2 separate regions of the Homo sapiens genome follow, and region 2 is linked to region 1. Evidence: fine-mapped expression QTL. A gene starts in region 1. The other region holds a variant in brackets. All regions are shown on one strand. Distances are between the middles of the regions.

Region 1 (5,364 bases):
GACCTCTGGGGACACAGAAGGGCATGTGGAGACCAGCATGAGTGGGTGTGACCAAACGACCAGCAGGCCCTGTACTCCACATTGCCTCTGCTGGGCCCTTGGTGGGCCCAGGCTCTGCTACCAGGGGTCTGATTGGCTGCAGCGTCCATTGCCTCCAGCAGACTCACCCAAATATGCTGGGCCGGAAGAAAGCACTTTTGTTTTCGTTTTTGTTTTTTGAGACAGGGTCTCACTCTGTTGCCCAAGGTGGAGTGCAGTGCAATGATCATAGCTCATTGCAGCCTCCAACTCCTGGCCTGAAGTGATCCTCCCGCCTCAGCCTCCCAAAGTGCTGGAATTAAATGCATGAGCCATCGCACCCAGCCGAAAGCAAGAGTTTTAAACACCCACCTAGGTGGTGGTTACTGGAATCCTCTCAGCCTGAGCTCCTGAAGGCAAGGACTGAGCCCCTTACTCGTGATTCTAATCTCTGTGCTCACTCACTTAATCTGGGAGGTGGTACAGTGCAGCTTCAGCTGCCTGGGCAGATTAGGTAGGTGAGAAGACCTCAGGGACTGCCTTCAGCCTATGGCATCTTCTCAGTGCCACCCCTGCCCATCCACCTGGCTTTACCCATATCCTCCTGCCTATTTGGCCTCAGTCAGTTTCAATGTTTGAGGGCCCCATGCTTACGCCGGTACCCCCCAGAATGCCCTCTCTCCTCTGAGCCATCTGTTGAAATCCAAATTAGAATCTGCTTTTGGGAAGCAGAAGGAAGCTTCAGCAAATCCAAGCCAATCTCTGGCTTGTCCCCTATCTGAGGGATCTTTCCAGTGGTCATCCAAAGCCAGTGTCAGGGCGCTCACCCCGACTCTGTTCCAGGACTCAGTCCAATCCCAACCCTCCCCAGAGACTACCTGGAGAGGCTCCAGCTGCTGAGCTCCCTTGCCTGCTCAGTGACTCACTTCCAGCATTTCTCCTCTCTCCTACATCATCAATCTCTTCCTCTCTACTGGACTCTTTCCATCAGGATAAACACATGCTGTTACTTCTCCATCTTAAAAAACAAAACAAAACCCTCACTAGAACCCACACTCCTCCAGCTACAGCCCCGCTGCATCTCCCTCCACTTGCTCCTATTGCAGCACATACCTCGAGTCATCTATACCCAGTCTCCAGTTCCTTTTTTCCTGTTCTCTCTTAAATTCACTCCAATTAGCCTTTTGTTCCCAGCACTCCATCCAAATTGATCTGATCAAGGTCACCAATGACCAGCAATGACCTTCATATTGATCAGCACCCGATACAGTTAATCACTACCTCCTGGAGGCCAGGCAGGGTGGCTCACGCCTGTAATCCCAGCACTTTGGGAGGCCGAGGCGGGCGGATCACCTGAGGTCGGGAGTTCGAGACCAGCCTGACCAACATGGAGAAACCCCGTCTCTACTAAAATACAAAATTAGCTGGGCGTGGTGGCACATGCCTGTAACCCCAGCTACTCGGGAGGCTGAGGTAGGAGAATCGCTTGAACCCGGGAGGCGGAGTTTGCGGTGAGCCAAGATTGTGCCATGGCACTCCAGCCTGGGCAACAACAGCGAAACTCCATCTCAAAAAAAAAAAAAAAAAAAAAAGTCACTGCCTCCTGGAAACATGCTGTCCACTTGGTTTTCCAAACACAGTCGAACTTAGTTCTCCTCCTACCTTGCTGGTCATCCCTGTCTCCCTGACCTCTTAATACTGTAATGCTCCAGGACTTGCCTATGGAAACTTCTCCATTTACGTTCACTCCCTAGATGTTCTCATCCACTCTTGTGGTTTTACATACATTAGCTCAGACTTCTTCCATAAACTTTAGACCAGTGTTGCCAATTTCAGTGCAATTTGAGATACTGTCTATTTGCCCAGGCTGGTCTTGAATTCCTGGCCTCAAGCAATCTTCCCACCTCAGCCTTCCAACTAGCTGGAACCACAGGCACATGCCATCATGTCCATCTTCACTGCAGTGTCATCACTTGAATGTTTAATAGGCATATCAAACAGAATATGTCCTCTGTCTGGGATGTTCCTCCCCCTGTATAATGGCATGGGTCACTCTCTCACTTTCCTCAAATCTCTGCATCAATACCATGTTATTAGAAAAGCCTAACACACCCTCAATAAAATAGTAAACCTCCTCTCCCCTCTCCACTATCTCCCCTTCCCCAAATTATTGTTCTTTGTAGCAGTCATCACCATCTGGAGTGTACTTCAGTACAGTTTATATTTGTATGATAGGTATATTTGATAGTTATCTGTTTTATCTTTTCCAACATTCACAGCTGTGTCCCCAGAACCCAGAACAGTGCCTGGCCCGCAGCAATTGCTCAATAAATAAATGAATCCAAGAGCTCTTCTTTCAGAACTAGAATTATTCCTTCCCTGCACTTTGCTTCCCTATCTAGACTTCATCTTCCCCCTCTCCACTCCTCTCTACCCTGCCTAATGACCAGCTGCTTGAAAAGACTTCAGGTCCCAGGCTTCACTCCCTTTAACTAACTGTACAGTTTTTTGGACTCCTCACCCCTTTACAGGTTTCTGCTTGGCCCAGTCCCCTCCATCTCCCCTTCTTTCATTCGACATACCTCCTCGAAATTACCAGAATACGCCTGTTTTTTTCACGTCTCGGGTCCTTCCGCCAAGAATGCCTTTGCAATATATTCCTGGAGCAAACTCTTAACCATTCTTCAAGGCTCAGTTTAGGCCTCACTTCCTCCAGGAAGCCTTCCCCGCGTCTAGTGTCCCACTGCTTCGGCGACTTCTTTACTCAGAGCTGTCACTGTTGGAGTCTAGGTCCGTGTCCTCCCACAATCCCCTGAACTCCCCGAAGGCAGGAATGGGGTCTGATTCACCCCCGTGTACCAAGCACCCAGCACTGGGTGCATAATGAATGAAGGATGGATGGGGGAGGAGCCCCCCACTATTAAGGCGGGGTCTAGTGACAAATGAGAGGGTGTGGCCTGTGCGGAGAGAAGCCCCGGAGAGGACAAGGTGAAGAGCCAATGGGGAACCAGAAATAGAGGAGGGGCGTGACCTGCAGCCAATAAGTGGTGGGGGATAAGGTGAAGGGCGTGCCCAATGGAGGGTGGGGCCAGGAGACAATGGAGTGGAGGCTTCTCCGGGAGATCAGGAAAGGTCGCGTCGCGCGCCTCCTCCCGGCCTTTGGGGGGGTCCGTCCGCGTGCCGTGCCCCCACCTGTTAGCTCCTCTGCTCGCCGCCCGCCGCTCCCGCTCTGCTACACCGGCCACCGGACGCCCAGCCGGCGGGAGCCGTCGCCGATGACGTACGTCCTCGGGCGCGCGCACGCTCTTACGAAAGCGTGGGGCTTCGCGTCAGTCTCCGCGGCGGCGCGCCCCCGAGGCCACTGGGAGCGAAGCCAGGCAGGGTTGAGGGGGCGGTGTTCGTGGTCCTGGGCCCGCCCCCTTCCCAAGGCCACAGCGAGTTGCTGGGCTTCAGGGGCTCCAGGCGGCCAGGGCGGCGGAGACTCTTGCTCACGGCCTGGGCGCGGAGACGTGGGGGCGTAGCCCGCGGCCTCGGGAACGCAGTCTGCACAGAGGGCAGATGCCTGCATAGGCGGGGCGCAGCCCGTGTACCAGGACGGGAGCCAGGATACTTTAAGCGTGTCACTCTGCAAGAATTCCCTCAACCCTCGTGGGCACTTTTATTCCATCCCACCTTCCCCAACACACACAGACTCAGGCGTCCGGCAGCCGTGGTTTATTCTGCGAGCAGCAGGGCTCGGGCGCAGGACCCCGAGGGCAGGCAGGAGGCCGGCGCGAGCGCGGGCGCGGGCACTAGGCTGAAGAGGACGCGGCGGCTCGCGCGGGGCGACGGCGGCAGCGCAGCCTGCAGGGAGCTGAGCGCGGCCAGGTGCTGCTCCCGGGACAAGTCCCCGCGCAGGCCCAAGAGGGCGGAGACGTGGTCCTCGCTGCAGGGGCACCAAGGAGGCGCGTCAGCCCCGTCCTCCCCGCCCTCCGGCTTCTCTTCCCTTCTGGCCCCCAGTCCGCACCTCACGTCGGGAAATTGTTGCCGCAGGCCAGCCACCTCCAGGCCCAGCAGCGCGGGGTCGCGGAGGTTTAGCAGCTCCCTCAGGGCGAGCAGCACCGGCGCGCAGTGCGCGTTCTCCTCCAGGCCCTGAGCACGTCGGGGTAGGGTCTCGCGCCAGCCCTCTCTCCCACCCAGCCACTGAGACTCTCGCCCGTCTGCCCGCCCAAGAAGCTCTCACCAAACTGAGGAAAAGCTGCTGAAGCTGGGCAGCATCGTGCCGCAGGCGCTCGGCCGCCTGGGTCCTCTCGTCGGCTCCGCGGCACACCAGGCGGCCTTGCATCAGCGCGCTCAGGTACTGGAGCACCACGGCACGCTCGGCCTCAGCCAGCAGCAGCTGCGGGGAGGCAATCAGGCGGGTGCAGGTCGCCTCTCACCCGCGCCGCCCCTTCCCCAATCTTTTCCCCCAACCCACCTGAACCGTGGGGTTCCGCACGCGCCAGAAGTCCCGGCAGAAGCGCCCCGTCCGTTCACACACACTTTGCAGGAGCTCAGGGCTCGACAGCCATTGGCGCGAGGGCAGATCCGCGAACAGGGGCTGGGGAAATGATCCAGATCTGGCATTGCCGCGGAGACCCCCATACGTAGCTGTACCGCCACCTCTCCACCTGCTCCCATCCTGACCTGAAGGAGGCCTCACCTGGAGCTCCGCCTGCAGCGCCTCCAACACCAAGCGGTAGATCCTCCTCTGCAACTCGTCCAGCGCAGCTTCCACTGGAGCCAAGGCCCCTGAAGGCGCCCCGTCCAGCTGCAGGACAGACACTGAGGAGCTGGACCAAGCAAAACTACGGCTTCAGGACCAAGGCCAAGGCCCGCATGGCCCTCGGTGGTCCAGACCCTCCGGCGCCACCTTGTGGGGCAAGTGTTTGACGGGAGGGAGCGAGAACAGCGGCTCTCTGCACTTCTGGTCCCAGGCATGGACCAGGGCTGGGAGACGGGCGCTTGGCGAGCTGCAAAGGACACAGCCCAGCGAGACCTGCCTCAAATTCGCGGTGCGTCCTTGAGGAAAACATTCTTTCGGTTTCTGTTTCCTCATTCGTAAAGGAAGGGAAGTATCCCAGTGAGGAGGGAGTAAAAAATCATCACTTGTTTTCCTTGCCCCCACCAAAAAGAACATACCACCCAAGAGGAAGGGAGTGTGTGTGTGTGTGCGTGTATACACACAGCTGTAACCCCAGACATTACTGGCACAGAGTAGGGCCTTGAAATATTTGCTGGACGAATGAACAATTGACACCATGTGCCAGGCACTATGGTGGCCACTTTACATGTTATCTCATGTGATTCTCAGAACATTCCATTAGT
Region 2 (5,364 bases), 110 kb after region 1:
TCCTTGGGATCTGGGGCCAGGCTAGGCTCTGGCCTGTCCCAACCTGACCCTCTCTCTTATGCAGAAGTTCGCTCTCGGGCGTCCATTGCCGTAGCCCCGTTTGACCATGACAGCCTCTACCTGGGGGCCTCGAACTCCCTTCCTGGAGACCCTGCCTCTTGCTCTGTTCTGGGGTCCCTCAACCTGCACCTGTACAGAGACCCAGCTCTTCTGGGTCTCCGCTGTCCCCTGTATCCCAGCTTCCCAGAGGAAGCAGCACTGGAGGCTGAGGCAGAGCTGGGCGGCCAGCCCTCTTTGAGTATGTCTGGGCCTAGCCAGAGGCAGGAGGGCATGGCTTGGGGTCTGGGGCTTCCCGTGCTGACAGTTCACCCAGTCTCCCTCCCTAGCTGCTGAGGACTCAGAGATCTCGTCCCAATGCCCATCAGCCAGTGGCTCCAGTGGCTCTGACAGCAGCTGTGTGTCAGGGCAGGCCCTGGGTAGGGGCCTGGAGGACTTACCCTGTGTGAGTGCCATTTGCCCTATACCCACCAGCCCTTCCCCAGCCCAAGCTGAGCCTGTGACTGTGACCAGCCCCTCCCCAGCCCAGGCTAGGCCTTTACTTTGGGTAGAGCTTGGGGTGGGTGGGCCAGAGCCATTCCCCAGACACCTCCTGGGTCCAGAGTCAGGGAAGCAGGCATTCATGCCTGGCCTGGCCCTGCAGGTCTGAGCCCGGGACTGGACGAGCAGTAGATCCAGCAGCCTGCAGCTCCAAGGAACATTGCCTCTCTGGATCTGCTGTGACCAGGGTGTGGCTGACACCTGGGCTACCTCCAACCTACATGTGCAACGCTGTTGACTACCCTTTCTGATGTGTGTGGCCATTGGACTAACTGGCACGGGGCCTCTCTAGGGAAGTCTGGTTGTAGAGCCTGAATAGGCTCCTGGCCCCATGACCCCTTCTCCTGTCCCCAGCTCCCATCCCAGTTGTGGGTTAAGAATAGGCTAGAGCAGACATTGGGTGTTTCCATGCTGTAGGCTGGTGGGGGACCATGTGCCTCTAGGCAGTGACTAGGGTGCCCCCACCCCTCAGGAAGAACACAGGTGGGCTCCTAGCAGCTGATCCCCAATGCCTGGCCTTAAAGCCGAGCTCAGTTACCATAGGGACAGGTCCACCTCTACTGGGCCCTCATGCTTGCCTTTCCTGGCCCCCAGGCCCAGCCCCTTTTTACTGGGGCAGTTTCGTTATTTTGACTTGATGCCTTTTGAATAACTTTCAATAGAATTGTCTAAAATTATCTTACTGGTTGTTAGGCCTTTGGTGTCTCAGAGAAGGAGTCTAGGTCTTTGATGTGTGATTTAATCTTTTATTTGTTTATAATAAAAAATAGACTGATATGTACCCTCTGATGGGCACATGCATTCTGGGCTATCTCCAATTAAAATGAGACTTGGCGGGTGGGGCATGAGGGGCTGCATCTCTGGGCACCCTAGTCCTCTTGTAGGTACTTTCCCAGGATGGAGTAAGAGACAGACCTAGACAGGCCCCTCTGGATGAGCAGGTCCATGCATCGGCCATATTTCCTGGCGAAGGGCAGTGTAAGCTGGAAGGAAAGGCCAGTCTTATCCCTGATTTCCTGGCCAGTTGTCTACTCTAGCTCCATGTGGGTGGGGTTCTCCCATTGGGGCAGGGACAGGGCAAGCCCGGCTGTTGGGGACTTTTGATGCTCTAGGGCCCAGCTCTGCCCCAGGGCATCTCACAGGGTGGGGCTAGAAATGGCTATCAGGGAACAAAGCAGAAAGACCGGAGGTTCAAAAATCTGTTTCCTGCTACTGGTTTTCTGCTTTTTAGCCATACATGCTGACTTCACCTTTACAAACCACATATGAGCCAGATGCCTAATGGTAACTGGGTACTAGAGGGCTTGTGGTGAAAGGTGTTATAATAATGCTCTTGATTATAGAAGTGTCAGATCAATGAGAAACTGCCTAAATCGTTTCGGCCTCAATGTTAAAATTAGATTAAGGAATCAGAAAAGGAAAAAGAAAAAAACCCTTGATCATTCCTTTGCCCTTACTGAATATTTTCTTTTTTTTTTTTTTTTTTTTTTTTTTTTGAGACGGAGTCTCGCTCTGTCACCCAGGCTGGAGTG[C/T]AGTGGCACGATCTCGGCTCACTACAAGCTCCGCCTCCCGGGTTTACGCCATTCTCCTGCCTCAGCCTCCTGAGTAGCTGGGACTACAGGCGCCCACCACCACGCCTGGCTAATTTTTTTGTGTTTTCAGTAGAGACGGGGTTTCACTGTGTTAGCCAGGATGGTCTCGATCTCCTGACCTCATGATCCACCCGCCTCGGCCTCCCAAAGTGCTGGGATTACAGGCGTGAGCCACCGCGCCCGGCCTAAGAATGCTTAAAAGTAGTTTAGAAATGAAAGGAATGTACACAATTGGTGACATCGTGGCCAGATAGGTGAAGCTGGTATCACTGGTTGAAAAGGCCTCACTCCCATATGAGTCAAAGCTTGGGCTCATATGATATGTGTCCCTAAGTGTGGCCAGGGTTGTTAGTGATGAAGGCACAGCTGGTATCATTGGAGGAAAACTGTAAAAACCAGTGGCCTGAATACTGCTTTTGGACTACTCTGGATTGGTTAATTTCATGCAGTTTCTCCCTCCCTGGGAGCAGTGGCCTAAGCTGCCTGTCTAGCCTTCTGGGCAGTGCTGGCCCAGCCCTGGTGCAGCAAGACACACGTCCATCTGAGGCATCCACAGGGTCGGTGGATTCCCAGGGATTGCAAGTGGCCCTCACCTCCACCCAGCTGTACAGGCGCTCCTGGGTGTGCCGGTCATCCTTGAAGCCGGTGATGGCCAGCAAATCTACCACAAACTGCTTGGGGCTGATGTGCAGGGTCTGCCAGGAGAGCCCACAGTCAGGCAGTGCTAGGGCAGCTCCTAGCCCCTCAGAGTGAGATGCAGAGCGGGGACTTCTCTGGGCCCACAGAGCCACAGGGGTAGGGGGCGGGCACTGTCACTGCAAATCTGCCTCTTGGCCGAGGCTCAGTCCAGGTGCAACTGCTCTGCTTGCCTCCCTGTCCCACCACTCTTCTGGCCCTGGCCTTCTCCTTAACCCCATCTTGGCTTACTTCCTCTTGCCTTGCACCACTTATTGTGGGGCAGGGGAAGAGGTGGAGAAGGTACAGGGTGCCCCAGGGCCTGAGGCCTGTCACACATACCCACAGCCGATTGGCCAGGGAGACCACCTTGGCTGTGATGGCTTTGGGGTCCTTTTGCCTGATGGAATCCATGATGATGTCAGCCAGGAAGCAGTGACATTTCTGTGCATAAAACATCTCTTCCCAGGACAGAGAGAAACTCAGGAAAGTCACTTCTGTGGAGGAGGGAAAGTGGATGTGGCCACATCTGTCAATAGCTAGGGCCTTAGAGACAGTGTGAGGAGGGGGAGAGGGGTAGGGCCCCCAGGGGCCACTGTCTCTGCCTGAAGTACCCTGGGAGGGGGCTCAGGCATCCTCACGAGGAGGCGCAGGGCTCGGCCTGGCTCCAGAGCCTCACCTTGGGGCTGGGGACTGGCTGTGGGTGTTGTGTGCCTGAGGTTGTCCATCTCCGTGGTATAGATGATGCTGTCCTCAAAGAACATGCAGAAGCCATCGCTGCCCACCACGGGGGGGTGAGTCACTTTGAGGATAACCCCTAGGCTGTCCACCTCACTGGCCTCGGGCAGAGGCTGCTCAGGGGCAGGGCTTTCTGTGAAAACAACATAGGGAGGGGGCTCTCCTTTTAAAAAAAAATTTTTTTTCAAGATAGAGTTTTGCTTTTGTTGCCCAGGCTGGAGTGCAATGGCACAATCTTGGCTCACTGCAACCTCTGCCTCCCAGGTTCCAGCGATTCTCCTGCCTCAGCCTCCTGAGTAGCTGGGATTACAGGCACCTGCCACCACGCCCGGCTAATTTTTGTATTTTTGGTAGAGATGGGGTTTCACCAGGCTGGTCTCGAACTCCTGACCTTAGGTGATCCACCCGCCTCAGCCTCCCAAAGTGCTGGGATTACAGGCGTGAGCCACACGCACAGGCTTTTAAAATTCTTTTCTTCAATTACCATCAAATCTTCATAAGCAGGGACTCTCCTTAAGCCACCTCAGAGCCCAAGCAGGAAGGGGACCTCTGGTGACAGGCCAGTACAATCAAGTCACCCCAGCCTTGCAACAGCTGCCACCTCTAGTTTCTCAGAAGTGACACCCTGGGCTGGCAGGGGCCTGTCCTGGCCACTCCTCTCTTCATTGCCCTGGCATCACTGCAAGCCAAATCCTGAACATTTTGGAACTCGAAGAAACTCCAGATTCCTCTGTTGAACTAAGACGTATCAAATGGGGCTGAGGGCTGGAAATCTTTATAAAATTTTAAGTTGAGAACTTTTGGGGCCAGCCTTTGATGCATGTCCAAAGAGTGGACATTTGTCATCCCAACCTTGACAGACCAACTTAGGGCTCACAGGCAAGAGTCCAAGAAGGCCCCTCCAAGCAGGGCTGGAGCCACTAATAGGGAAGGTGACAATACTGCAGGCAGGGCTTTGAGGGAGCAGAGGCAGCATCCTGGCACAGCGATTTTCAGCACAGTTCCCTGGCCACCTTCCCTTAGCTGGCTACACAAGCTCTCTCTCCAGTTCAGTCCCTGTAGCCCCTGCTGTCTCCTGGGCTTCTCCACCTGGATGTCCCTCGGCATTTCACACTCAGTATGTGCCCTTCCCCAAGCTCTGCTCTTTCTCTTACCCACACCTCAGTAAGGGCCTATCCACCCCCTTGCAGTCCCACAGGCTAGAAACCTGGCTTCTCCTTGGCCCATCCCTCCTTCCCTCCACTACCTGCCTAGCCTGCTTCCCCTAGCCTAGAAAGAACTCCAAGTGGCTTCGAATACCTAGCTCCTGCTGCATTTCCTCTGCTCCTGGAGCAAACTTTCTGATGGGCACACCTGACCCCGTGCTCTTGTCTAAAATCCTTCAGACGCTGCTCACTCCCATCCTGGTCAGAATGGAGTACCACGTCCTGAAGCTGGCCCACGAGGCCTGTCCTTATGACTTCTGTCTTCAGCCTCATCTTTTATCACGTCTGCATGTGAAGCCTGGCCTCCAGCTAGACCCATGCCCTGCGCTTCCAAACATCCTGGACTTCTCCTTCCTTCCCCTGCTGACTCCCCAGCCCTCAGCCTCTTTTGTGCTCCTGCTTCATAGGCACCTCCTTCCCACAGCACTCATCCCTTCGCCGTGTGTGTTCTCCTGGCCCCTCCAGCCATGCCAATGTGCCAGTCATTTCTGTGTCTGCTGCCTGGCACAGAGATGGCATTGGTGAGCGGGGGGGTCTAGTCCTCCTTTGTCACTAAC

Evidence for each region. PIP is the estimated chance that this variant, and not a neighbour inherited with it, causes the effect. A credible set is the group of variants that fine-mapping cannot tell apart.
Region 2: its variant is the best candidate, but not a certain one, in a credible set for the expression of MATCAP1 in sun-exposed skin (GTEx, PIP 0.75).

The regions. Positions count from the first base shown.
Region 1 is chr16:67,180,662-67,186,025 of GRCh38, forward strand. MATCAP1 (microtubule associated tyrosine carboxypeptidase 1) reads right to left here and starts at 3,302. Exons shown (of 7, transcript NM_001040715.2): 1 at 2,601-3,302; 2 at 1-5. It overlaps EXOC3L1 (exocyst complex component 3 like 1), which reads right to left. Exons shown (of 14, transcript NM_178516.4): 10 at 4,700-4,829; 11 at 4,475-4,597; 12 at 4,241-4,396; 13 at 4,025-4,149; 14 at 3,718-3,943. The coding sequence ends at 3,733. RefSeq lists an enhancer at 4,721-4,820.
Region 2 is chr16:67,288,103-67,293,466 of GRCh38, forward strand. PLEKHG4 (pleckstrin homology and RhoGEF domain containing G4) reads left to right here. Exons shown (of 22, transcript NM_001129729.3): 20 at 65-298; 21 at 387-502; 22 at 701-1,378. The coding sequence ends at 706. KCTD19 (potassium channel tetramerization domain containing 19) reads right to left here. Exons shown (of 16, transcript NM_001100915.3): 13 at 3,544-3,735; 14 at 3,207-3,361; 15 at 2,783-2,884; 16 at 1,330-1,580. The coding sequence ends at 1,467. Among named protein-coding and RNA genes, the nearest start is that of PLEKHG4, 11 kb to the left of the region's middle. The variant C/T (reference allele first, on the strand shown) is at 2,130.